Linked DNA regions of Homo sapiens. The protein of the gene in region 5 purifies or fractionates together with the protein of the main gene of each other region. This does not show direct contact. Each region holds a gene or a part of one and is shown on either strand. Other genes may lie near its edges.

Region 1 (3,500 bases), on a different chromosome or scaffold from region 5:
AAAATGTTTTGAATATGGAAGATAAAACAAATCAAGTTAGAATTTGTTTCCCTATGGTAAACTACTGTACAGTTTTAATTCCATGGTAACTCTTAGGTTTAATTTTGAAGCAAAATCTAGAGGCTGAAATTCCTCACTAAATCTATATGTAAGCACAGTTTAAACATCCTTCTCTATAGGAAAATTGTAACTTTTGCTTATTTTTATTGGCACTGATTTTTTTTGTATTACCTATGTGCTGATTATCTTTAAAATTTTAATTATAGAAAAGTAAAATATTTTTGAAAACCTCTTAAAATTTTTCACGCATGTGCCAAAAAACCCATACTTCTATATAATTTACGCTACAAATTGCTGTACATACAGGTTTATAATTTTTTCGCTTTATACAGTCTATCTTCTGTAGCCTTTTATACCACATTGGTAGCAATACTTTCTATTAGGGAAATTATATACTTTTAGGTGAGAGTACCATATCTTATTTACCCTTACCCTGCCTGTCACCCATTTAAGTGAATCCTTTTCTTTTTAAAAAGTGTGAAATGCTCTGTAACATACCACATATTTTAAGTATTTTCTTATACTGACATTCATCATCACTTAGTATGTTGTTTTGGTTTTACGTAGACTCATCAGTCACAGGTTTTAACTTGAATACCATTGAGGTGGTGGTTTGTTTATCTGTAAGCCCTCCTTATCTGAAATACTGTCCTACAATCCTATAGCTGTCACTAAGAAACAAATTTTGATCCTCTTTGCAATGTTGGTGAAGGATTTGGCCAAATCCAAATTGCTATTACCAGCTTGCATTTCAGGAGACAGCTGAAAATTGAGGGATGTAAATACTGCTCTGATTAATCAGATTGCAAAACATTTAATACAAAAATTGCTCAGAGTTATTTCTAATCAACTCATTAAATAACTTCTGTTATTTAAAGGGTAACTTTATCAATTACAAATTCATCATTTATGATCATCAAAATCATAAAATCAATCCCTGCATTAATCCAGTTAGTAGTTACTTACATTTTGCTGAAACAAAAACTGAGCTGTGTTGGTTACAACTGTCTGTGACTTGCCCATGTGATTACCAGGCTAATTTGTCATTCTATGGGTTTTAAATTCTAAGGGTTTTAAATCAAGAGATTAGCCTGACATTATAATGGATATTTAGTATATATCTTTTGAGTTGTAGTAATTGAATATGCTCAAAAGTCAGTTATAAAACTCATTACTACTACTGAATGCATTCAAATTTCAACAATACTGAGTTTTTTACTTGCTTTATATCTAAATTTGGTACTAATTAACTAGGTAAAGAAGTGGGAAGGACTAGCAAGTGTAAGTCTCTGCAGTTTTTTTTTTTTTAATTTGGCAAACAGTTACTAAATGCCTGTTTTGTGATAGTTGCTGAGTGTTGGGATGAGTTAAGATCTAGTCCCTGGCTTCTAGAAACTCACAGATTTTATTATATATTTTTTATTATTAACTGATAAACTTTTCTTATTCTATGATGAAATAATACTTCCAGGTATTGCTCAGTTCTTTCCGTAATTCAAACATCTAAAAATTCAACATCTGAAAGTAATGTAAATTAGTTATGTCTGAAATTTTAGGTCAAAACGAAAGGGAGGCAAGATAAATAAGATTTCCCCCCCCCCCCCATTTAGCAATCTCCAGTTACTTCTTTAGCTTTATGAATGGAAGTTGATGAATTAGGAATTAGTGTAACATTCCTGCATAAATGCATTGTATACTCTGTAAAACCTGCTGTGAAAAAAAAAGTTGATTAAGAATGCAGGAATCTGGTTAATTTGCCCTCACAGCAGGCAGTGTAGGTAAAACTTTTCCTTGCTGGGTGACCACAACTTGTTTAGAAGAGGTTACTTAGGTATTTTTTTCAGAAAGTAAGAGCTCTTGAACAATGTGGAAATCTAGTATTTTAGGTTTGGTTAAACTGTTTTTCATGAGTTGTTATTAAAAGTGGAATGATTTGTACACATATTTTAAAGTCATAGTGATTTTCTACAGGTGAGTAAAAACAAACCTCCCTTAATCCTTTTTTTTTTTTTTAATTTTATTCCTTATACTACTCCCAGATGTGAACGCTTCCTGATTTGGGGGTTGGGGGACACTATTTCTGCTTTCTGCTCTATAAATCTGTTGTCCTTATAGAATATTCCCATTCTAGTGCAGATTTTAAGGATGTGATTTCAAGAAAATAAATGAAAATAAATTACTAGAGTTGATATTATTCAAATCTATTTTTAAGAACATGCTTTACAGGAAATATTTGATACAGGATATTTGCTCCTCATTAGACTGCAAAATGCTTTATTTACATAATATATTCTGGCATAACCATTGGAATAGTTTTAGAATTATTGTGAAACTTTTTAAATTTTATTTGTCTTTCTACTTAACTCTAATGCAGGATACTTTGGCAGCAATCTCAGAAGTTCTTTATGTTGATTTGCTAGAAGGGGATACAGAATGCCATGCTAGATTTAAAACTCCTGAGGATGCTCAAGCAGTAATAAATGCCTATACAGAAATTAACAAGAAACACTGCTGGAAACTCGAGATCCTTTCTGGTAAAACTTCATAGACGTTTCCTTTTTTTTTTGTTATCATCCTTATTGTGAGTAATATATTTTCTGAGTTTGGCTAATGAAACTAGTTTTTTTTTTTTGGTCTTGCTCTGTCGCTCAGGCTGGAGTACAGTGGTGTGATCTCAGCTCACCGCATCCTCCACCTCCCAGTTTCAAGCAATTCTCCTGCCTCAGCCTCCAGAGTAGCTGGGATTACAGGCGTGTGTTACCACGCCCGGCTAATTTTTATATTTTTATTTTATTTTTTGAGACAGAGTTTCGCTCTTGTTGCCCAGGCTGGAGTGCTGTGGTGCGATCTCGGCTCACTGCAACCTCTGCCTCCCGGGTTGAAGTGATTCTCCTGCCTCAGCCTCCCAGGTTAGCTGGGATTACAGGCATGTGCCACCATGCCCCGCTATTTTGCATTTTTAATAGAGACGGGGTTTCTCCATGTTGGTCAGGCTGGTCTTGTCTCGAACCCCGGACCTCAGGTGATCTGCCTGCCTTGGCCCCCCAAAGTGCTGGGATTACAGACATGAGCCACTGCACCAGGCAATTTTTATATTTTTAGTAGAGAAGGGGCTTTGCCTTGTTGGCCAGGCTGACCTCTGGTGATCCTCCCTCCTCGCCCTCCCAAAGTGCTGGGATTAGAGGTTTGAGCCACCGCACCTGGCAAAACTAACTATTTTTTTTCTATTCTGTAATATGTGTAAAGTAGCATTAAATATAATCAAAAACTGTCCTAGTTACTATTATTGAGAATGTAATGCCTTGAATATGGTTTTTCAGATATGTTCTTCTTTTCATCCATCAGAGTCTTTGTTTGTTTTTAAGGTGATCACGAACAAAGGTATTGGCAGAAGATTTTGGTTGATAGACAGGCAAAACTTAATCAGCCTCGGGAAAAGA
Region 2 (3,500 bases), on a different chromosome or scaffold from region 5:
ACTTATAATTGTTACTATAGTTCTGATCTGTTTATTCATTTCTACAATTCATTCTGGGTAGTCAAGCCCCAGTTCCCTCCCCTGCCCCCTAGCAGTAAGAATAGAGATCATATTTTCTTTTATTTGAAATCAGAGATTAAGAAACAAAGCAGTAGTATTCTAGTACAAATTCTGAAATCTTGATTTAAGAAGTTCTCTTCTAGATGTTTTTGTCTAGCATCCGTGGGCCAAGAGTCCCCCTATATGCAAGGTTTTGTGCATACATAATTTTGCTGGGGTTGGGGAAGAGTGCATAGAAAAAAATTACAACTCAACTGAACTGGAATGACGCTGTGGCTGATCTTTCTAGTCAGCTTTTCCTGGCAAGTCCGAGGAAGCTTCTGTGAGAGTGAGGAAATGTTAGGGGAAAGGTGGTTGAATACAAGTAAGATGGAAGTGCCATGGTTGTCTTGTGTTTCAGATTATGCTTTTTATGTAAGAGTATTGGAGTACGATAGAATTTATTCCTGAATGTTTTTGTCTTCAGTGTGTTCCCTGGATATTGTTTAAATTGAGTGTTGTGCATCAGCATATTTTGAATGTATGAAGCATGCATGTTTTTCTGTTTCTTGAGACAGGATCTCATTATGTTGCCCAGGTTGGAGTGCAGGGGCATGCCACAATCACAGCTCACTGCAGCCTCAGCCTTTCCTGGGCTTAAGCCAAGCTTGTCCAACCCGCTGCTTGCAGGCCACATGCGGCCCAAGAATGCTTTTAATGCAGTGCAACACAAATTCTTAAACTTATGAGGTGTTTTTTTTTTGTCTTTTTTAAAGACGAGTCTCACTCTCGCCTGGGCTGGAGTGCGGTGGTGCAATCTCAGCTCACTGCAGCCTCCGCCTCCCGGGTTCAAGCGATTCTCCTGCCTCAGCCTCCTGGGTAGCTGGGATTACAGGCATGTGCCACTACGCCCAGCTAATTTTTGGTATTTTTAGTAGAGATGGGGTTTCACCATGTTGGCCAAGCTGGTCTTCCAACTCCTGACCTCAGGTGACCTCCTAAAGTGTTGGGATTACAGGCGTGAGCCACCGTGCCTGGCTGGTTGTCTGTCTTTTTATTGATTAAGGGAACATTTGTTTTATTTTTTTGAGATGGAGTGAAGTGGTGTGATCTCAGTTCACTGCAACTTCCACCCCCTGGGTTCAAGCAGTTTTCCTGTCTCAGCTTCCCGAGTAGCTGGGATTATATGCACCTGCCACCATGCCCGGCTAATTTTTGTATTTTTAGTAAAGACGGGGTTTCGCCACGTTGGCCAGGCTGGTCTCGAACTCCTGACTTCAGGTGATCCACCCGCCTTGGCCTCCCAAAGTGCTAGGATTACAGGCGTGAGCCACCGCGCCCGGCCAAACATTTGTTTTATATTGGAAATATTTTCTTCGAATTTTCCACTTTATAGACCTCACTTTGTGTGTGTGTCATCTTAGAAAGGTTTTCTCTCTATTTCTACATTCTATGTTCAGATTCAGAATCTACCTGGCATTTAAGATTTTTCAATGTAATGTGAATTAAGAGTTCTACATTTTTTCATTTGTCCCAGTGTGTCATGTATTGAGTAGCCCAAAGTCCTTTTTCCCCAGTACTTTAAAATGTTAACTTTAGCACAGTGAATTCCCATAATTGCTTGGGTATATTTCTGGCCTCTGTTTTATTACCGTTTGTTCCTATGCCACTCGCATACTGTTAATGTAGTTTTATAGCATGCTTATATATATTGCTGGCCTAGCGAGTGGTTCTTTGCAAGTCTTCATTGCTCATTTAAAAGGTCTTTGCAATCAATTTTAGAAGAACCTTCCTCTTGAGTGTTCTTTATACCGTAATATTTATGGATCCTCTGCTCTTGAATGTAAAAACTTTTATTTTAAGATGTGGGTATTGTAAGATTCAACTACTTTTTTCTCAAAGGCATAGTGAAGCATCTTGTCAGCTTGAATTGTTAGAATAGTCAAAATTTAATTGGGAAATGCTTCCAGTGGTGCCCAAAAGTCAATTTAGTAGGCCTGGGATGTATTTATTTAGATAATTAAATTTCAATATTGAAAATCCAATCAAATTCAGTATCTAAAATCTTTAAAAGTTTCTGTGCAGCCTTCACTTCTGTCAGTTCTCTGACCTGGCTAGGGTAATGCATATGTGTAGTTTGCCCTTAATAATTGGGTATTAAGGAAAAATTGTGAACTCAATGGGTAAATACAAGATGATTAAGCATTAACAGGGTTTAGTTATTTGATTCAGTGATTTATAATTGTCTAAATTGTAACGCTCTTTTTTTGCTCCTCATTCTACCATTACGTTAACTTTTTTTTTCTTTTTTTTAATAGGTTATGATGGAGGGTGGTCGCAGCAAAGGGTTTGGTTTTGTATGTTTCTCCTCCCCAGAAGAAGCCACTAAAGCAGTTACAGAAATGAACGGTAGAATTGTGGCCACAAAGCCATTGTATGTAGCTTTAGCTCAGCGCAAAGAAGAGCGCCAGGCTCACCTCACTAACCAGTATATGCAGAGAATGGCAAGTGTACGAGCTGTTCCCAACCCTGTAATCAACCCCTACCAGCCAGCACCTCCTTCAGGTTACTTCATGGCAGCTATCCCACAGGTAGGTTTTAGAAGGCAACCAGAACCATGAAGGTTTTCGTATTTGGTCATTTCTAGTGTTTTTTGTGCCCCTCGCCCCGCAAATGTGAAACATTAAGAAAGGGGAATTATGATTGAGTAGGAAAAAATGCTTGAGTGTGAAGTCCTGGTAAATGTTTTGAAAAAGTACATATAATTTATTGCATTATTTGCTTTTTTCTTCAACTGATAAACTCATGTGCTTTTTTTCCCTGCAGACTCAGAACCGTGCTGCATACTATCCTCCTAGCCAAATTGCTCAACTAAGACCAAGTCCTCGCTGGACTGCTCAGGGTGCCAGACCTCATCGTAAGTCTTTTTTCTTTTAATTAAGGTTGGGGATTGAGTTAAAAATAACACATTGGGTAAATCAGCTCTTCTATGTCAATGTTAGGTTAACTATTGCATTTCACATAATTTGTGGTTATGGATGTTCATTTTTATAGCATTTAAAAGCAGTGCTAAGATAGTAATGTCTACAGTGGTTTGATTTCCCTTTATAAAAGTTTTGGGAATAGGTACAGCTCTTCATTTTTTATTTATTTATTTATTTATTTATTTTCGAGACAGAGTCTCGCTCTGTTGCCCCAGGCTCGAGTGCAGTGGCTCAGTTTCGGCTCACTGCAACCTCCACCTCCCAGGTTCAAGCGATTTCTCCCTGCCTCAGCCTCTGGAGTAGCTGGGATTACAGGTGCCCGCCACCACGCCCAGCTAACTTACGCATTATTAGTAGAGATGGGGTTTGACCACGTTGGCCAGGGTTGTCTTGAGCTCCTGATCTCAGGTCATCTGCCCACCTCAGCCTCCTAAAGTGTTGAGAGTACAGGCGTGAGCCATGGCACCCAGCCAATTT
Region 3 (4,206 bases), on a different chromosome or scaffold from region 5:
AGCCTAGGCAACAGAGCGAGACTCCAAGTCAAAAAAAAAAAAAAAAAAAAAGTACCTGGCTCCCAGGCATGGTGGCTCACACCTGTAATCCCAGCACTCTGGGAGGCCAAGGGGGGTGGATCACCTGAGGTTAGGGGTTCGAAACCAGCCTGGCCTACATGGTGAAACCCCATCTCTACTAAAAATACAAAATTAGCCAGGCGTGGTGGTGCATGCCTGTAATCCCAGCTACTTGAGAGGCTGAGGCAGGAGAACTGCTTGAACCGGAGGCTGCAGTTGGCTAAAATCACGCCACTGCACTCCAGCCTGGGCAACAGAGCAAAACTGTCTCATAAATAAATAAATGGTAACTGGCACATGACCTGCATCATCAAAGGGCACCTACCACCCGCCTGTGCCCATTAAGTTAATTGGCCAGTAATATCTCTCAAGTGCGGGTTCACCAAGGGTGGCAAATCCCACTGAAGACATACCTTTCTGTTATCTACGAAATTCTGCTCTGCAACTCCCTCGCCTCCAGCTGCCCTTACCTACCCAATGCTAGAACGTTCTTCTTGTAACTTCCGACTGTGTGCCAGCTTTTCTCAGGTGTGCTCTGATGCACCTAAGAGATGACCCTTGTCATCCCATTTCACAAATAAAAACACAGAGGTCCAGGAGCCTAAGTCATTCATTCCTATTTATCCCAAAGGTGCAGAGCTAAGATCCCCATCTGCAGTTTTAAGCCCTCCAATACTCAATACTGGGTGCTAAGCCTTTATGAACATCATCTTATTAACAATAAAAGTAGTAAACAGAGTAACAAAGGCTGACATGTGCTGACTGCTTGGTGCCAAGCCCCCTGACATACAGTTTGCCATTTAATTCTCCACCAACATTATAAGGGTGCTACCACTATCCCCTTGCTAAAGATAAAGAAACCAATGCATTAAGAGGATACAACATTTGCCCAAAGTCAGAGCTGATAAATGGTGTGGGTTAGGCATGAATCCTCAACCACTACTCACTGAATTTTCACAAAAATTCTACAAAAGGTGTACTATCAACCCCACTTTTTTTTTTTTTTTTTTTTTGAGACAGTCTTGTTCTGTTGCTCAGGATGGAGTGCAGTGGCGCGATCTCGGCTCATTGCAACCTCCGCCTCCTGGGTTCAAGTGATTCCCGTGCCTCAGCCTCCCAAGTAGCTGGAATTACAGGCACCATGTCCGGCTAATTTTTGTTATTTTTAGCAGAGACGTGGTTTCACCATGTTGGCCAGGCTGGTCTTCAACTCCTCACCTCAAGTGATCCGCCTGCCTCGGTCTCCCAAAGTACTGGGATTACAGGCGTGAGCCACCGTACCGGGCCACAACCCCACTTAAAAAAAAAATTTTTTTTTTGAGAGACGAAGTCCTGCTCTGTCACCCAGGCCGGAGTATAGTGGCACAATCACAAAGCACTCCAGCCTCCGACTCCTGGGCTCAAGCAATCCTCCCACCTCAGCCTCCTGAGTAGCTGAGACTACAGACGCACTCGACCACACCCGACACCCGGCTCCAACCCCATTTAAAACAGAGAAACTGAGGATCACAAAGGTTAAGCCCCTCGCTTAAATCACGCAGCTGGCAAAATGGCCAGAAGCTGGACTCGCAAATCCAACCCGTTGCTCCCCAGAACCCAAACCATTCCTGGCCTGCTCAGTGAACTCACCTCAAACTCTCGAATGTACGGCGCAATGCCACAATAAGGTTGATTGTGGTGTTTTTCATGTGGCAGTTTCTCCAGGGGTGGCAGGTATGGAATAGGGTCACGGGGGGCAAAGAGGGCCAGAAGGTTGGGCGGCAGGAACTGGGTCATCTTGCCAAGTCTGAGAGCAGAAGCAGGACAGCCTTAGGTTAGATCGGGTCTGCACAGAGAAAGCCCCTGTTACTCCTTGACTCTCAAAATAAGAAAGACAGGAGAAAAGTCTCGGAATTAAAACAGGCTCTGTAAGGGCAGAGAACAGTCCTGTGTTGCGGAGAAAAGGGTACGTCTTGGTGGGGGTGGAGGTGAAAGGCCGGTAAAGAAAACAAAAATAACGGCTGGAAAAGGGTTCCTGAAGAGTGAAGTCTCAGAGTCCTCTGACACGAGCTGTGGGGCGGAGAGGTTCCCTGGGAATTTCTGGGGAAATCAAGGACCCGAGGAGGGAGGCCCAGAGCAGCTGTGGCTGCTCGTCCCGTGCCGTGGAGGGCAAATTACGAGATGCAGTTTGCAGGGTCCTGGGGATCGGAAGTTTCCAAGCAAAGAAAGAGAAACATAAGGAGCGAAGCCCCAAAACCAAGTGCTTGTGGGTAACAGACCTGGACCCCGCAAAAAGCGAAAGGAATTATGGGTAAGGGTCCAGGACAACATAGACAAACGAAAAAGAAAAAAGGCCACACACCGCAAGGGCCTGTGGGTAGGGAACCACGAGGGCGCTGTGGGAAGCGGGCGTGGGTGCCCAGAGATTTCGGGGTCCGGGAAAGGGATGCAGAAGGGACCTGTGGCGGGGACGCGGGAAAGGGGCCTGGCCGCGGGGAAGAGGACCGGGCCCACCGCTGGGGCTTCTGGGTAGCGGCCCCGCACCCCGTCGGGCCACTCAGTCACACTCACTCACCGCGTAGCGCCCTCCTCGCTCTGGCGTCTGTCCGGAGGCTCGCGGCGGCTGCGGCAGCCCCTCAGCAACAACAACTCCTGCTTCGGCTTCCACTCCGGGGGCGTCCACGTCCGTCTGATTCCGTCGCCCGCTAAGCGAGCGCACCAGGCCGCTGCTCAGCCACCCGCGCGGCCTCCGATAGCGACTGGAGCAGGGGGTGGGTCCCGGCCGCAAATCCCTCCGCCGTCCTCACTGCGCACGCGCCGTGCGGTGCCAACAACAACCCACACACTAGGACCCGGCGCTGCCGCGGGCACAGCGCACGCGCGAGGTCACTACCCCGCCTTTGGGCACCTTGAGTACCTCAGCCGCGGGGGGCTGGCTTCTGCACTGCGCGCGCGCGCTTGCCCCAAGCCGCCCCTCCACCTCCCGCTTTCCGCGCCGAACCGCCTATGTCCGCGAGACTCTCCCTGATGCTCCGCCCCTTTCCGATCACACTTCCCGGATCTTTCGCGCATGCGTTTTGCGTAGAGAACTGTAACGTACCTCTCCGCCGCCTAGCAAAGAGTCCCTAGGTGAACAGCCTGATTGCGTTGATGTCTAATCTATTCAATCAATAACTATTCATCGAGCATCTCGTGTGTGCTAGGCACTGTCTGGGCTTTGGGGGTACAGCACGTGATTAAAGCAAAGTCTTCTGCTGCTAGGGCTTACATTGTACTGGGAGAGACAATAAAAGCATTTAACTGAATAAAGATAATTTGAGGCCAGGCGCGGTGGATCACGCCTGTAATCCCAGAACTTTTGGGAGGCTGAGGCGGGCAGATCACCTGAGGTCAGGAGTGTGAGACCAACCTGACCAACATGGTGAAAGCCCGTCTCTACTAAAAATACAAAAATTAGCCGGGCGTGGCCGTGCGCGCCTGTAAGCCCGGTTACTCTGGAGGCTGAGGCGGGAGAATCGCTTGAACTCGGGAGGCGGAGGTTGCAGTGAGCCGAGGTCGTGCCATTGCACTCCAGCCTGGGCGACAGAGCGACTCCGTCTCAAAAGTAAATAAATAAATAAATAATAAAAGATAATTTGAGATAGTGGCCAGCATAATGAAGAACGATGGAGCAGAATAAAGGGATGGGAAGTGAGAGCGAGGCTGTTTTAGAAAGGGTGATAATGGAAGGCCCCTCTGAAGAGGTAACATTTGAATAAAGGACAGATAGAAGCGAGATCTGGGGTGGGGCCGGGGGGGCGGTGTTTAACAGTAAGTGCAAAGGTCCTGAACTGAGACCAGATGGCAGGAATCTCAGGTTGTTGGCCATGAGATCAGAGAGCTGGCACTTGTTATTTAGAGCCCTGTTCTTAAGTATTGTATCTTAAGTTTTGTGGATGGATTCAATAGCCTGTTTAATAACTACAGAAATTATTGCAAATTAAAATGACTAATTTTATGTTTCAAGAAAAAGGCCGAGTGCAGTGCTCACGCCTGTAATCCCAGCACTTTGGGAGGCCAAGGCGGGCAGATCACCTGAGGTCAATAGTTCGAGACCAGACTGATCAACATGGAGAAACCCCGTCTCTACTAAAAATACAAAATTAGCTGGGCATGGTGGCACATGCC
Region 4 (3,500 bases), on a different chromosome or scaffold from region 5:
CTATGAGGATTATTTATTTTGATGCCCAAATTGTCCCTGGTATGTACATGAGGAGCCCCGGTAAGCTCTCTCTCTCTCTCTCTCTCTATATATATATATATATATATTTTTTTTTTTTTTTTTAACGTCCCCAGCCATTCATTGAGCATTCCCTTATTTTCTAGAACAACATATTTAGGATCATCTTGCGTTTTCTTGCCCTATCACTGGAATCATCTATTTATTCATGGAGCCCTAGTTTCTAGTAAAGTAGTAATGGAATATGGTATTTAGGAGCCAAGATCTGGGCACTTGATATGCTCATTGCCATTGGGGTGTCATTGGTTCTAAGCCTCTTGGTGGACACACATCCATCCATCCATAACTGTTTTTATGTCCACCTGTGTGTATATATGCCTCCAATTCCAACTCAATACCTTATTTCTACACTTCTTCTCTACCATGATTTGTAAACACCTTCTCAGGCAGTAACAAACTTGGCTTCCATTATCCTCAATATTTATTTATTTGATAGAATATAGCCAGTTTCCAAAGCGTGCAGTCATCTCCACCATGCCCCATCATCACCCCACATACTTGGCCACCAGGCTCATGAGCTCACTCACCCGCACCTCAGTGCAAGCCAGTGAGTTTTGCAGTATGCCTGAGATTTGGTGTGCTGGCTTAGACAAAAACTCAAAGGATTTTTTTTTCCCTTTCACTTCTTGGTTGTCAGCTGAGTTCAAGTTGTTGGAGATCATGACTTTCCAGGTAAGTCGGGTGTTACCGAAGAATGGGACTGATAAAAGATATTTTCTGAGGCTGTTATTTGTATTGTAGGTTGTCTTACCATCAGCGTATATTAGATATTGTTCCTCCTACCTTCTCAGCTCTGTGTCCTGCAAACCCAACCTGCATTTACAAGTATGGAGATGAAAGTAGCAGTAAGTAATGAAACTAATCCCTCTGTCTTTAAAAGGTACCAGTTCAAGTATATCTGAAGTTAGTTGTTTAAAGTGGAGAAATTGAACTTTTTCTTTTCTTGGGGTTTATATTTCCTGTATTTGAAAGGTGGTCTATCATTAGCCACTGTTTTATTTGCCCTGTCATCATTTTGAGGATTTGGTTGTGATAAAATTAATTACTACTGGCTTATCATTTTTTCTCTTTTGAATGTGTTAAGTATAGCAAGATGAATTTATAGTTAGAACTTACTAAACTGAAAACGTGTATTTGTCATGGTGATGGAGGTTACTTGAATTCATTATCTTGTTCAGGTGTGGTATTGAGAACATAGATGCACATATTTGTGGCAGTATGCCTTTAAAAGTAAATTCTTAATTATGATTTTCTTACCTTTTGGTCACATAATCTCTGAAATTGCACCATAAATCAGGGAGTGTAATTTGATGTGCCATTTTGCCCTTTGCATAGTATTTACACTTAATGAAGGTAAAGTATTATACATTGTTGATCACTGGTAGAGTTAGGTGTGGAGTTTTTCCAACTTGTTCTTTGCAGATTACACTTAACACAGCCCCTCCATGATCCTTCCATTTTGTGTTGTGTAGAGGTTCTTTGTATCTCACAACTTTCTGCTGTTCTTTGCTTTTCATACTGTGTGCCTGTTTCTCCACCTCTGTCTCTGACTGTACCTGTTTTCCTTGAAATGAACTGTGTCGGTCCTGGTACATTTCCTATTTCATTATGTCAACTCTGAAGAATAGATATGATTATCAAAACTACAATGAGGAAATGACTTCCAAGAGGTCAAGCTAGAATGAGATTGCTTTTGAGTGGTGGAGCCCAAATTCAGGCGTAGGTGCACTAACTGAGTGGCCATGCTGTTAGCCACTGTGCTTTTTGGCAGATCAAAGGTTTATGCAGTACTTAGAAGTGCTGGGTTTTGAGTTTTGTCCTGTACTGGTTCCGAGAATGATAAGGTGTAGTCTTTGCTATCAGAAAGCTCAGGCTTTTGTTGAAGATTAAGCTTTCTTTTTGCCCCATAGGAATAACTCCGCCTAACATTCAAGGCCTTCATAACCATTGTTCCTACTTTGTTATTTTTCACTTCTCCCCACATGGACCTCTATTTCTGCCAGGTCCATGTACTTTTTTATTTTTTCCATACTCCCTGTTCTTGACTTTGCCATTACCCCAGTCTGGAAAGCCCTTTCTAGCTCCACTTCCTTTTCTCCTTCTAGATTCTAGCCCAAGCTCAATAGCTGTAAATATTTTTTAACCGTTAGCAAGCCAGTTTTGTATTGCTTCCTGGCTGTGTCTAATGTGAATATCTTGGTTCCCCAGCTAGAATGTAGACTGGTGACAGGGGATTCTGTTTTTCTTCGCCTTCTTTTTTTTAGAGAAAAAGCTCACAGCAGGTGTAATATGACTGTCCTCACATGACTGTTGTAATTTACTTTATTCATTCCAGTAACTCATACTCTATAACAGGATTGCCTTTTTTGTTACCTCTTTGTCTACCTTACATTAAAAGCAGATTTCTTGTTGCTCTGGTGATGCCTTACGGTGTATATTAGCACAAATTTTTATAATAAGGACTCAACTGATACCAACCAATAGTAAATACAAGGAGTCCCATCACGTGAGCATCTGACTTACGTAGATTCAAGCTTGTGGACTCAGCAAAAAAGAAAAGTACAAAAACAAAACCTCTCTGAAGTTGGCAGCCATTACCTTGTTGAGACTCAGACTTCATTTCCACGGTCCCGAGGAAAGAAAGAGGAAGTGGGTGTTGGCAAAATGAAAGAGAAGTACGTTGGTTCTGGGATTTTGAGCCCAGGAGAGTTGAGGGCATTAAAAGACAGTTTAACTGTGTCCACTTTTCTCCTTACCATTCATCTTGAGGATGATCAGCACCTTGTGCTCTAAATTTTACTTAGCTAAGTGTCCTTAATGAATTGTTGAAATGAGAATTGTCCCTTTTTAGGTGAAAAACCATTAACCTATTAGAAAAAGCTTTCACATACGGTATTTATATGTGATTAAATATTGACCTTGGGATAAAGAGCATCCTATTTTGAAAGGAAGAATTTAAAAAAAATTTTTCTCAGTTATTTAACTGTTCATTAGAATAGTCTTGAAACCTGATCTGTCATTCCCCTTACCCCCAATTCTGTGTTTAGATTCTCTTCCTGGACATTCTGTTGCCCTCTGTTTAGCTGTTGCCTTTAAAAGTAAGGCAACCAATGATGAAATCTTCAGCATTCTGAAAGATGTACCAAATCCTAACCAGGATGATGACGACGGTAAGTGGAATTCAGTATTTCTTAAGTGGAACTATGTATAGGCCAACTTAAAGCATAAACATAACTCTGGCAACATGATGCTCTTAAAGCAATATATCTATATCTGTTTGACCTGTTCAGACTGTTGTTCTTAGCACCCCAGGTATTTTCCCCTTATATAAAAAGAGATCCTAACATTTCTGTGATATAGCTTACTTAAGAATATAAACTTCATCGTAAATACAAAGTGAAATATGTTACCATTCAAGGATT
Region 5 (3,500 bases):
ATGTTTTGAATAGATTTTTTAGTTTTATTGAAATCTTACATGAACAAGAAATTGGAAATACAATCACATCAAAGAACAAATTGTCACGGCTTTTGACGTTTAAGCCAAACAAATTTTGTAGGGCAGATTTCAAAAAGGTGTGAAGTTATAACAATTTAAAAACACAGTTAACCTACTTCTAGGAATGCAAAACATACAATCATAGGTTATTTTCAATACAAGAAAACTTAAATTTGTTTGCTTTAATTTCTTAAAACTACTAAGACAAAGCACTAGCTTGTATTTTTATTTACAGCATACTCCATACTCCTATGTAATCTATCCCAAATCCAAAAAAATGAAACTGTCCAAAACCAAAGGTTCTGCAAAATCATGATTTAACAGTGTGCCCAGCTTGTTTTGAAGCTAAAATGAAGCCTGAAACGATAAAAGCATTGTAATCCCCAGAATAAGGGAACTCTGCAAGCCCAATAATGTCCAAGAGCATTTATGAAAAGAGGAAAAATAAAAAGACTTGAGTATATACACAATAGTGATTTCTTCAGCCCAATACAAATGGCAGCAAAATGCTACTTAAAGATGAAACAGTTAAGCCAATTTTTTTTTTTGAAGAATGTAGATCTAGAGCCAATCGTATCTTGCCAGTATCATTTTCAAGCCCTTACTTGTCTACTTCCACTGTTGCCCATAAGTATCCTGATAAAATTCCTGGTTGTCATTATTGTAACCATAGTTACCAGAATAGTCACCACCTTGCTGAAGCGGCTGCTGAGCGATGGGTTGGGAACCCCAGTTCTGTTGGTTGTTGGTCTGACGACGCTTGGAATCAGGCTGGTTGTACCCATCTGCCTTTCTCTTGCCTCCTACATTGCCCCCACGATTGCCCCGAGATCCACGGGAACCACGGCCTCTCTGCTGTTGAGCAGGACCCCCTCTGCCACCCCTAGAGCCTCTTGGTGGTCCCAAAGGTGCCCCCCTCTGTGAATAGCCAGCTCTACCTCTTGGAGGTGGTGCTCCCCTCCCCCTTGGTGGTGGTGGAGCACCTCGCCCTCCCCTTCCTCCTCCTCTTCCTCTTACTGCATAGCCATCATCATAGCCGTAGTAGGGATCTTCATAGCCTCCACGATAGTCGTGATAATCATAACCATAGTAATCATCATAGTAATCTTCATAGCCGTAGTAATCTGGAGGGTAGCCATATCCACCTCTCCCCCCACCACGACCCCGACCTCTAATTGGAGGTGGCATGCGAGGAGGAGGGTGGTAGTAATAATCTTCATACCTAGCAAAGTAGAGAAGGGAGAAAAGAAAAAACAAATCAGTTTGCTTCAAGACTCTGATTTTGTTTTATTAATCTGATCTCCATTATCACGTTATTCCTTGTCCAAAGATATATCTACTAAAATGTAGACTCACGCAGTGCTTCTGGAGGCCTGTCTAGCAGCTTGGCGCTCTTTCCTTTTCTTGTCTGGTGGCTTGGCTAAGACTATTTCAATTTCTTCCCCTTCTATTTCTTTGCCATTCATTTCATCCATAGCCTATAAAAAATTAGAAAAATTATTTTACAACGATATAAAACTGTATTTTGTTTTATATAGTATGTAAGCTATTATACTTGTGTAATTTAATACACTTAACAATTTACTTCACAATTATTTTAAATGGCAAAAGGTGAATCTAGCCAGAAAGTTAAACACAAACACACAAAGAAAATACGTTTCCCTTGACCTTATCTTTTTATACATAAATTACATTTAGAACAAAACCGACCACCTGATATTATATTTTAAAAGGTAAAAGGGCTGCCACCTATTGCTGCTCCTTAATTCCAAATAACTCCTTAAAAGATAAGCCATACCAAAGAAGCAAATCCATACCGGGGAAAAATGCCAGTATTAATACGAGCCAGACAAAGATTAACTTCTCAGGATTAGAATTTTAAAATAAACATGTAGCATACAACATACAGGTCTTCCACTGTTCTTATACGACAATTTCAAGGATTTGAAGCACAAATGAGGTTACTGAGTGAGATTATCTGTAAAATTCAAGAAGATACTAACACAAAAAAGCCTAGGTTTCCCTCACAATGCTTAACCCAAAATGTACTTTGCTTGAACAGTTAAAAGTACAGAGCCAGAAAAGGCCTGGACTAATGAAGACTCAAGCAATTATGTAGAAAGCAGTAATCAAACATTCCATGTTCTAGCCCTTTGTTCACGTTGTTCCACCTAACAACCTCTGCCATACATCAAAAGGTTCAGGTACTCAGTAACAAAATGTCACCTCCTCATGATATTTTATTTTTTGTTTCCCTATACCTTTCCCCACTCTGGGCACACATAAAAAAATGTTCTATTGGAGCTATCAGTGATTTATAAGTATCTAGACAAAAACGAAACTAGTCCTCAAGACTGCAATTTTCCCTTTTACCACCTCAGCTTTGCGTTGCTTCAGTTAAAGCAACTAAACAAGTTTACAAAAGCTTCCTGGCATAAATTAAAAAATGAAACATCTACCCTCTGCCCTGACCATCCTGGTGACTCCCAGTTCCTGGACTAGATATTTTATAATTTCATAGGCTTCTTTGGCAAACCATCCTATAAATATTTTCAATCAGGACAACCAGTTATTTGAAACCAGTCGAGTCAGGAGGAATATTTAGACAGCATAAAATTATTAGTTATCTGCATTCTATACCAGTGAAATTTCAGAAGCCACAAATGAACGGATAAGAGTATAACAGCATAACAGATAAGACTCCATACTTCAAAGCCAGATTATTACTGAGTTTGTGATCTTGGACAAGTTATGAATTTTATGAACAATACTGCCTCATTAATTAGCTACCATCAATGAGCAAGCCAATTAATTATAAACCAATCAGGGATTCTATAAAGCCTGTTTTAAAAGCAGTAGCCTGGGCAAAAAACAAAACCAAAAAATGCTCAGATTAGAGATGGCAGTATCCCACCGACCAAACATGCAGAAAAAGAACCATGCCTGTGTCACTAAGCATTCTGGATCTATCTTCCTAATAACATAAATAAGATTTTAGTAGTGTTTTGTCTTGCTCCCACCCCCCCAAGGAAGGAGAGATGAATAAAAAAAAGAAACTGAAAATTTCACCCATTAAAGATAGTCCTAAACCATTGTCGATAGAAAGCAGGTTTTGTGTTCCAGATACCATATGAAAATACTTTCTTCAAACTTTTCATTATCATCAAAGACTAAATCAACTATTATACACAAGTGATATCTCTAACAATTACCGAAATCAGTAAAACATAGTGAATGCTATTTTAACTCTAAAATGATTAAATAAAGGTAAAACTAATCATACCCTCAAAATCTATCTACTCAATTAAACATGGTATACTGTATGAGTCATGTACACCACTCAGTTTCCTTCATAGGTACACAAACTGAGGTCAACTAAGTAGTTATAATGCATTCATTACCTATTCAGTGTTTACAGCAGCTAATTTTTATACCTTGTA
Region 6 (3,500 bases), on a different chromosome or scaffold from region 5:
CCTGTCTTCATGGAGTTTCTAGTCTAGTGAGGAGGAGTCAAGTGCATTGTCAGTGTCTGTTACATGGTGCTAAATACTACAGAGAGAAAGCAGGGAGCAGAAATAGAGGGAGGTGGGGCAAGTACGCTGCGGTTCTGAATAGGATAGTCAGGGGGGACCTGCGTAGTGTTTTTGAAAGGATGAGAGCAGGTCAGTGTCATGAAAGCAGCCGTCTCATACTGACCGTGTTCTGGGTAATCGGCTAGTGCTTTGCATGCTTTCCTGCTAATCCTCGAAGCCACCTTTTTAAGTTCATGGTGCCAACTTTGAGTGGTGGTGCCATTATTTTGGAGAAGGAAATCAAGTTACTGAGGTTAAGTAACTTGCCCTAAGTCCCACAGCCAAGTGGAGCTGGGATTGGGACACAGAATCCCATGCTTCCTCATCTCCTGTGCTTTATCACAGGCCCAGGAAGGCTGCCTCTTTGTACTGCGTTGTAAAGCACTGACAGTTGCTTTAACTCTTCTGTATTTCAGATCTTGATTCCACCCAAAGGTTTATTTTCAAAGCTCAAGAAAGAGGCTGAAAACCCCCGAGAAGTTTTGGATCAGGTAAACTGAATAGCATTTCTTGCAACCAGTTACTGGTGGTTGGTTCTGTTTTATGTCTGAAAACAGTCTCTGAGGCAGGACCTTGTTATGTTCCAGTCATGGGAATGGTGGGAGAAAAGGCTTTGTTGGCTACAAAGGCCAAAGAAACCTGGAGTCCGGATGCTTCCCAACATACCACAACTTTCTGCTTTGCTCTCAGCCTCAATATATCTCCCTCTTTTCCACTCTAGCTAGAAGACAGAAGGCCAGCTCCCAAGCAGATCAGAGGGTGGAATTTTCATTCTGTCCCAACTCTGCACCTGGGTGGAACCAGGTGCAAATGCCATAGTTTGGAACCATACTTCCATTCTGTTCCGAAGGAGGCGCTGACTTTGATGAAAGCCCTGGAGGTGGTAGCCTCATCAGGAGCAGACCCTGCTTCAGCGTAGCACCAAGCTGTTTCCCATCTCTGCAGGTGTGTTACCGAGTGGAATGGGCCAAATTCCAGGAACGTGAGAGGAAGAAGGAAGAAGAGGAGAAGGAGAAGGAGCGGGTGGCCTATGCTCAGATCGACTGGCATGATTTTGTGGTGGTGGAAACAGTGGACTTCCAACCCAATGAGCAAGGTAGGTCTGTGAGGAGTGACTCCAGATGGGGAGCCAGGAACTCAGACTTCCCGGGAAACCTGGTGCAGGTGTTCCCAGAGAGCAGTAGAATCTCTCAGAGGGCTTTATCAGTGCTGTCTCCTCCCTGCTCCCAAAAGACTTCAGTTCTACCACTTTGCCCAACTTAGATTCAATACGTACTTGCCAGACCCTAGATGGGCCTCTGGAGATAGCTGGAGAGAAAACAGACATGGCCCCAGCCCTTGGGGAGCTCAGACAGGGCAAATAGGTGGGTCTTTGATAAGGAATACCTTTGCCTCTGGCTCACCCTCTAGGGAACTTCCCTCCCCCCACCACGCCAGAGGAGCTGGGGGCCCGAATCCTCATTCAGGAGCGCTATGAAAAGTTTGGGGAGAGTGAGGAAGTTGAGATGGAGGTCGAGTCTGATGAGGAGGATGACAAACAGGAGAAGGCGGAGGAGCCTCCTTCCCAGCTGGACCAGGACACCCAAGTACAAGATATGGATGAGGTAAGCTGCTGGGCAGGCCTGCAGGATGACCTTTTCCCCTGAAGCCCCAGGAGGTCGAAGTGCTCTCCACCAGTCAGATCCAGCTCCCCTGTGAGCCTTGAAAGGAGGCGTGGGTCCTGAACAAGGCCATACAGCTGCCCAAGTCCAGGCAGCACAGAGCCTCTTTCCAGCTCCGGCAACAAAGATTCATTCATAGGCAAGGATCTAAAAGCTGTGCTGACCTGTTCTGTGGCCGCCTCCCTGGCCCGGACAGCCTGCTCTCACTGCCTCGTGCCAGCCCTCAGGGAACTCACTGCATTACCCTGTTCTGTTTTGAGCTCTCAGCTGGGCTCCAAGCTCCCAGAGCTTTTCTAAATGTAGCCCACGCTTCCTTTCAGGCATCCCTACCCCCTTCAAGCCAGGCCCTCTAAGCAGGCATGGAGTCTCCAGAACCAGACTGTTCTCCCCCACTCGGAAATAATTTGTGCACAGCCTGAGAAGAAAGGGCCCCTGTCTGTGGGAAATGACTTTTTCTCTCCCTCCCAGCATTGCTGTGTGAGCAGCTACCATTGATTGGCGACTCGCCGCCCCCACCCCTCGCCCCCTTGGCACTGTCCCCCCCCGGCATGTTAAGTGCCCTTGGCCTCTTGGGACTGCCTGGTGCCAGCTGCTGGAAATGCCTGGGAGGAGTGCTAGGACCGTGGCCTCAGCACTCCCATTCATGCTGTGAGGAAGCAGCTTGGCCTGCTGCCGGCTGGCCTCAGCTGCCCTGGGAGGCTTAGCACATGGACGCTGGCTGGCAGAGGCCAAGGCTCCTTGCCACCCAGAGACCTGCCAGGCTCAGCTACAGGGAGGTGGCCTCAGCCCCTCTCTGAGTCCTGCCATTGCTTTGCTTTTCAGGGTTCAGATGATGAAGAAGAAGGGCAGAAAGTGCCCCCACCCCCAGAGACACCCATGCCTCCACCTCTGCCCCCAACTCCAGACCAAGTCATTGTCCGCAAGGATTATGATCCCAAAGGTAGGGAGGGCCTGCTTCCCAACCCTCGGGCTGCCCAGGAAGTCCTGTGTGCCCTCATGTGTTCCTCACACCCGTCTTTCTAGGAGGGCTTGAGGTGCAGCTTATTGTAAAAGCATTGCAAGCCCGTCTGTTACAGGTTTCATGGTGGGAACAGGGCCCAGTCATCTCTGGTGCCCTAGTGCCTTTCACAGTGCCAGGTACAAGAGTGGCACTGAATAGATGCCTTGATGAATGATGCACGCATGAAATACCACCCTCTTAACTCAGGTGGCTGCCCACCAGTGTTCTTACTGAAACATCTGTTTCCTTTTAGCCTCCAAGCCCTTGCCTCCAGCCCCTGCTCCAGATGAGTATCTTGTGTCCCCCATTACTGGGGAGAAGATCCCCGCCAGCAAAATGCAGGAACACATGCGCATTGGACTTCTTGACCCTCGCTGGCTGGAGCAGCGGGATCGCTCCATCCGTGAGAAGCAGAGCGATGATGAGGTGTACGCACCAGGTGAGGTGGGGGTTCCAGGAGAGCCCATGGTAGTCTCCGAATTACAGCCATCTTCTTCTAAGCAAACATAGAAAGCAACAATTGAGGTCAACAAAAGCTTTTGAGGAGAGTTGCACTCTATGATATTGCAAGAGAACTCCCCACTTTCCAGAAGAACTCCCCATAGAAATTCCCCAAAGGCAGACACTGAAGGAGATGCCATGTGCCTGTTGACATCCCAGAGCAAGCTCTGGCTTTAGCTGGAAGGGCTTCCTGTGGCTGTTTAGAAGGAGAGCATTGATGGCTGGAGTACCATGAGCTC
Region 7 (3,500 bases), about 160 Mb from region 5:
ATGATCCTCAGCCTCCCAAAGTGCTGGGATTACAGGCGTGAGCCACCGCGCCCAGTCTATAGAGATGGAAGTTTTTTAAAGGATCAAGACAGTTGCTTCTAATGTGTTGGTAGACATTTGACTGAAGTGTGACTTTTCTAATGCAGATCTTGCAGGAGAGAGAGTTACTGCCTGTGAAGAAATTTGAAAGTGAGATTCTGGAAGCAATCAGCCAAAATTCAGTTGTCATTATTAGAGGGGCTACTGGATGTGGGAAAACCACACAGGTTCCCCAGTTCATTCTAGATGACTTTATCCAGAATGACCGAGCAGCAGAGTGTAACATCGTAGTAACTCAGGTAAGTGGTAAACCAACCATGAAATACCTAGAGAGCAGACTATTTCTGATTCTTTCTTTGATTAACTAATTTTTGTAATTATTTAAGATTGAGAGAGCATTGTGCCCTTGAAATTAAATTTAAAAAAAGAAAACATAAAAACAACGTAGTCTTTTTCTAATCTCTAGTATGCTACACTAATAAGCTAAACTGGACTATGTGAGGGATTCTTTTTATCTGGGCTAAAGAGTCTCTGGGCCTAGAATCAGACTGTCGAGATTAAGAATTCTTTGTCCTAAAGTTCATCCAAATCTTGGTCATCTCTATCTAACCACCTTGATATTGAGTAAAAACCAGTCAGACAGGTAATGGTTAACTTTCACTGTATGCCATGTTCTATTCTAAGCAGTAGCTTTTTAGAAAAAACTCAATCGAAGTTCATAATGACCCTAAGATGTAAGTACTATTTCACATAGTATTTCTCTTTCAGTAAATTAAGGCATAAAGAAGGTAAAATGCCCAAGGTTAACACAGAAAGTGGTAGAACTAGGATTAAAAAACCAAGCAATCCGCCTTTTAGGATTCTTCCTTTTAACTAACACTGTATTACCTTACCAGCAATGAGCAGCGCCTGCATGTTTGTCCCAGTACTTAGGGAAGAACTGATTAGCTCTTCTAAGTGCTCTCAGGTTAAACAGTTCCGTTGGCTCTACCCTGTACTTCTGGCACTTTGTGGGAGAGCATTGCAAATAGCCAGGTACTACCTCTGAGGTAGGCTTACATCTTGACTTAGAAATTATTTTTTCCCCGATGGGTTAATGTTGCTTAACCTGGGAAACATAATCAGTTTTCAGAGGAGAGTTACAAACTTTGAAATGTGTGCATGTTCATTTACATTTGCATGTATAAAGCATATATCTGAAACTTTTTAACATTTCTGAAATTGAGATACATTTTTATAATTAGTATATTTGTATAATTGTATAATTAGTATAATTGTATATTTTATGTGAGAATTGGGTTTTCTCCTGAAAAAAAAAATTGCTGTGAAGGAATCATGTTGCATCCTAAGGCTGATGATACCTTAGGCTTGAAAAAATATGATAAATTGACATTTTTCTGGGAAAGGATTCCTAGCTTGTTCACAAAATTTTCTTTGATTTTCCGACTCACCCCTAAAACTGGCTATGGATTTTTTGACTTACAGTGAAGGCTGCAGCCCCAGATGTCATCATACTCCAATAAAATATTCTTACTCTTAATTCTTACCTCATCTTTCAGGAAGAACATTGTTCAAGAGTGCAATTTTACAGAAGAGAAGCCTTGAGCTCAGCTCTGCTCTGCTCTTCTCTTCCCTTCCTCTCCCTTCTACCACTATCCATTTCTAATCTCAAAAGCAGTTGTGGCATATAGCAGAAAGAAGCAGAATTTAACAAGCGAGCTGTGAAGACAGGAGTCTCAAGTTGTCTGCATGTCATAAATAGAGTAAAAATTCCTGCCCAAGTGAGAAGTGCTTTGTCTCACTGTCTTTTAAAATGTTCAGTGGCATGGAAATGTATTAGCAAACCTGTGTCTTCTGATTTGGGGTGAATTACTTATAACTCATATTGCATCTACATTCTGTGGCTTGCATGTTTTTGTCCTAGCGTTTGTCCCAAAATCAGTCTCATACCTCTTACCTGTAACAAGTCTTCAAAATTTTAAAAACCTATATTGTGTCCTAGTATGTACTTAGTTTGAAAGTCTCAACTAAACATTTATAGTTCAGCCATGAAGGTACAGTAAGTCTAAGATTTAAACACACTCAAATTCATCAGCACCTACCTGTAATATGAAAAGTAGGCCTGAGCATGCTGATTGGTTATTACAGAATACAGTTTTTTATTATTTTTGTTTTTAATATACTGTACTTCTTTTGGCACAGTCTGAGATAGCATTAGTTATTTTTGTAGTACTACCACTGTTGAATCATTTTTCCATTATCTTGCACTTGTAGCCATCTATAGGAAACCACATGAAGTCATCAGTTAAGTATTAGAAAGTTTTTTTATGTTCCTGATTTTAAGTGTATTATCTCAGTTCACAGAGCACAAGTTTAGAGTTATGGACTGGCGTATAACAGAATGAGTAGCTCAAACCATGACATCAGCCTTAGTGTAAATTCTCAACCAAACTCACTGAATTTTATCCTTCGGTCTATCCATACTCAAGCCACTTAAAACCTGTGGGCTGTATGCAGAAAATTTTAAGTAGGAAATAGTTGTCTTCTACCTTTAAAGTTATTTGAAAGAGATGAATTGTAATTGTAGGATGTAAATCAAGCATATTAATGTAATTTTATCAATCCTGTACTTACCCCATAGTACCATCATTTCAGGATAAGAACGGTTCTTTGTATAAAATAAATTCAGAACCTTAGAAGATAGAGATAGTGGAGCCTGATACATTTTGTAGTATCTAGTGCATTAGGAATCTTGACATTTTGTGGCAGCTTAGTCATGTTACTGTGTATATAACGCTTAGATGTGAAAAAGCAAAGTTGGGACCTTTTAGAACTTCAGTTTTGAAAGATGGAAGAAATTGCTGTAGTTCTGAGTAAATGGCAAGAGGTGTACATTAAAGGTATGGATTCTAGAATACTACAAAATAACAGTTTGGGAGAGATCTCCAACCTCTTATGGTATAGAAAGTGTTAGTTACCCAGTACCTGGTACATAGTAATTTCAGTGACTGCTTAGTACATATTATTAGAGCTACTTCAGTTAAAGCAGACAGAAGTGTGGGGAAGAGGTTAGCACTTGAAATTACCTACTACTATGGCTGGACTCCAGGCAAGAGTAGTAAAATTCTAAAGAGAAAATGAGATAAGCAGATGTATGCAATGAAAATTAAAAGCACATATCTGGAGGACAGTTGGAACTATTCTTCCAGCTTTCTGTTGGAAAAATATTATCCTTTGCTTTCATCACTGGTACTTTCTAACTAGTCTCACTTTTGTCGGTTATTGTTTTATTTTTAACATATTTAGTAATCCAAGTGTAACATAGTTAAAATAATAAAAAGTAAAATAATTGGAGAAAGGATTATATTGGGAGTAAAGGAAATTTGAAGTCTTAAGTCATTTATGTGTCCTTAGGCAAAATAACCTTTTTGAACTTGTGTTTTTAATCTACTAGAATGCAG

Evidence for each region.
Region 1: the proteins of HNRNPR (region 5) and LARP7 purify together in Homo sapiens (affinity purification with mass spectrometry; 4 studies listed by BioGRID and IntAct, with this or other methods). This does not show direct contact.
Region 2: the proteins of HNRNPR (region 5) and PABPC1 fractionate together in Homo sapiens (co-fractionation; 3 studies listed by BioGRID). This does not show direct contact.
Region 3: the proteins of HNRNPR (region 5) and SNRNP70 purify together in Homo sapiens (affinity purification with mass spectrometry; 3 studies listed by BioGRID and IntAct, with this or other methods). This does not show direct contact.
Region 4: the proteins of HNRNPR (region 5) and NCBP1 purify together in Homo sapiens (co-immunoprecipitation; 2 studies listed by BioGRID and IntAct, with this or other methods). This does not show direct contact.
Region 6: the proteins of HNRNPR (region 5) and SF3A1 fractionate together in Homo sapiens (co-fractionation; 2 studies listed by BioGRID). This does not show direct contact.
Region 7: the proteins of HNRNPR (region 5) and DHX9 fractionate together in Homo sapiens (co-fractionation; 3 studies listed by BioGRID and IntAct, with this or other methods). This does not show direct contact.

What each region holds. Positions count from the first base shown.
Region 1 is NC_000004.12:112,650,643-112,654,142, forward strand, and holds part of LARP7 (la-related protein 7), read left to right. Parts: intron 1-2,434; coding exon 2,435-2,594; intron 2,595-3,425; coding exon 3,426-3,500. UniProt on the Homo sapiens protein: RNA-binding protein that specifically binds distinct small nuclear RNA (snRNAs) and regulates their processing and function.
Region 2 is NC_000008.11:100,708,589-100,712,088, reverse strand, and holds part of PABPC1 (polyadenylate-binding protein 1), read left to right. Parts: intron 1-2,357; coding exon 2,358-2,630; intron 2,631-2,865; coding exon 2,866-2,956; intron 2,957-3,500. UniProt on the Homo sapiens protein: Binds the poly(A) tail of mRNA, including that of its own transcript, and regulates processes of mRNA metabolism such as pre-mRNA splicing and mRNA stability.
Region 3 is NC_000019.10:49,084,045-49,088,250, reverse strand, and holds the start of SNRNP70 (U1 small nuclear ribonucleoprotein 70 kDa), read right to left. Parts: upstream 2,801-4,206; 5' UTR 2,615-2,800; intron 1,847-2,614; 5' UTR 1,837-1,846; coding exon 1,690-1,836; intron 1-1,689. UniProt on the Homo sapiens protein: Component of the spliceosomal U1 snRNP, which is essential for recognition of the pre-mRNA 5' splice-site and the subsequent assembly of the spliceosome. SNRNP70 binds to the loop I region of U1-snRNA.
Region 4 is NC_000009.12:97,657,821-97,661,320, forward strand, and holds part of NCBP1 (nuclear cap-binding protein subunit 1), read left to right. Parts: intron 1-819; coding exon 820-923; intron 924-3,125; coding exon 3,126-3,248; intron 3,249-3,500. UniProt on the Homo sapiens protein: Component of the cap-binding complex (CBC), which binds cotranscriptionally to the 5'-cap of pre-mRNAs and is involved in various processes such as pre-mRNA splicing, translation regulation, nonsense-mediated mRNA decay, RNA-mediated gene silencing (RNAi) by microRNAs (miRNAs) and mRNA export.
Region 5 is NC_000001.11:23,309,785-23,313,284, forward strand, and holds part of HNRNPR (heterogeneous nuclear ribonucleoprotein R), read right to left. Parts: intron 1,539-3,500; coding exon 1,417-1,538; intron 1,283-1,416; coding exon 670-1,282; 3' UTR 1-669. UniProt on the Homo sapiens protein: Component of ribonucleosomes, which are complexes of at least 20 other different heterogeneous nuclear ribonucleoproteins (hnRNP). hnRNP play an important role in processing of precursor mRNA in the nucleus.
Region 6 is NC_000022.11:30,339,895-30,343,394, reverse strand, and holds part of SF3A1 (splicing factor 3A subunit 1), read left to right. Parts: intron 1-515; coding exon 516-590; intron 591-1,044; coding exon 1,045-1,195; intron 1,196-1,509; coding exon 1,510-1,703; intron 1,704-2,582; coding exon 2,583-2,700; intron 2,701-3,013; coding exon 3,014-3,199; intron 3,200-3,500. UniProt on the Homo sapiens protein: Component of the 17S U2 SnRNP complex of the spliceosome, a large ribonucleoprotein complex that removes introns from transcribed pre-mRNAs.
Region 7 is NC_000001.11:182,859,847-182,863,346, forward strand, and holds part of DHX9 (ATP-dependent RNA helicase A), read left to right. Parts: intron 1-146; coding exon 147-338; intron 339-3,500. UniProt on the Homo sapiens protein: Multifunctional ATP-dependent nucleic acid helicase that unwinds DNA and RNA in a 3' to 5' direction and that plays important roles in many processes, such as DNA replication, transcriptional activation, post-transcriptional RNA regulation, mRNA translation and RNA-mediated gene silencing.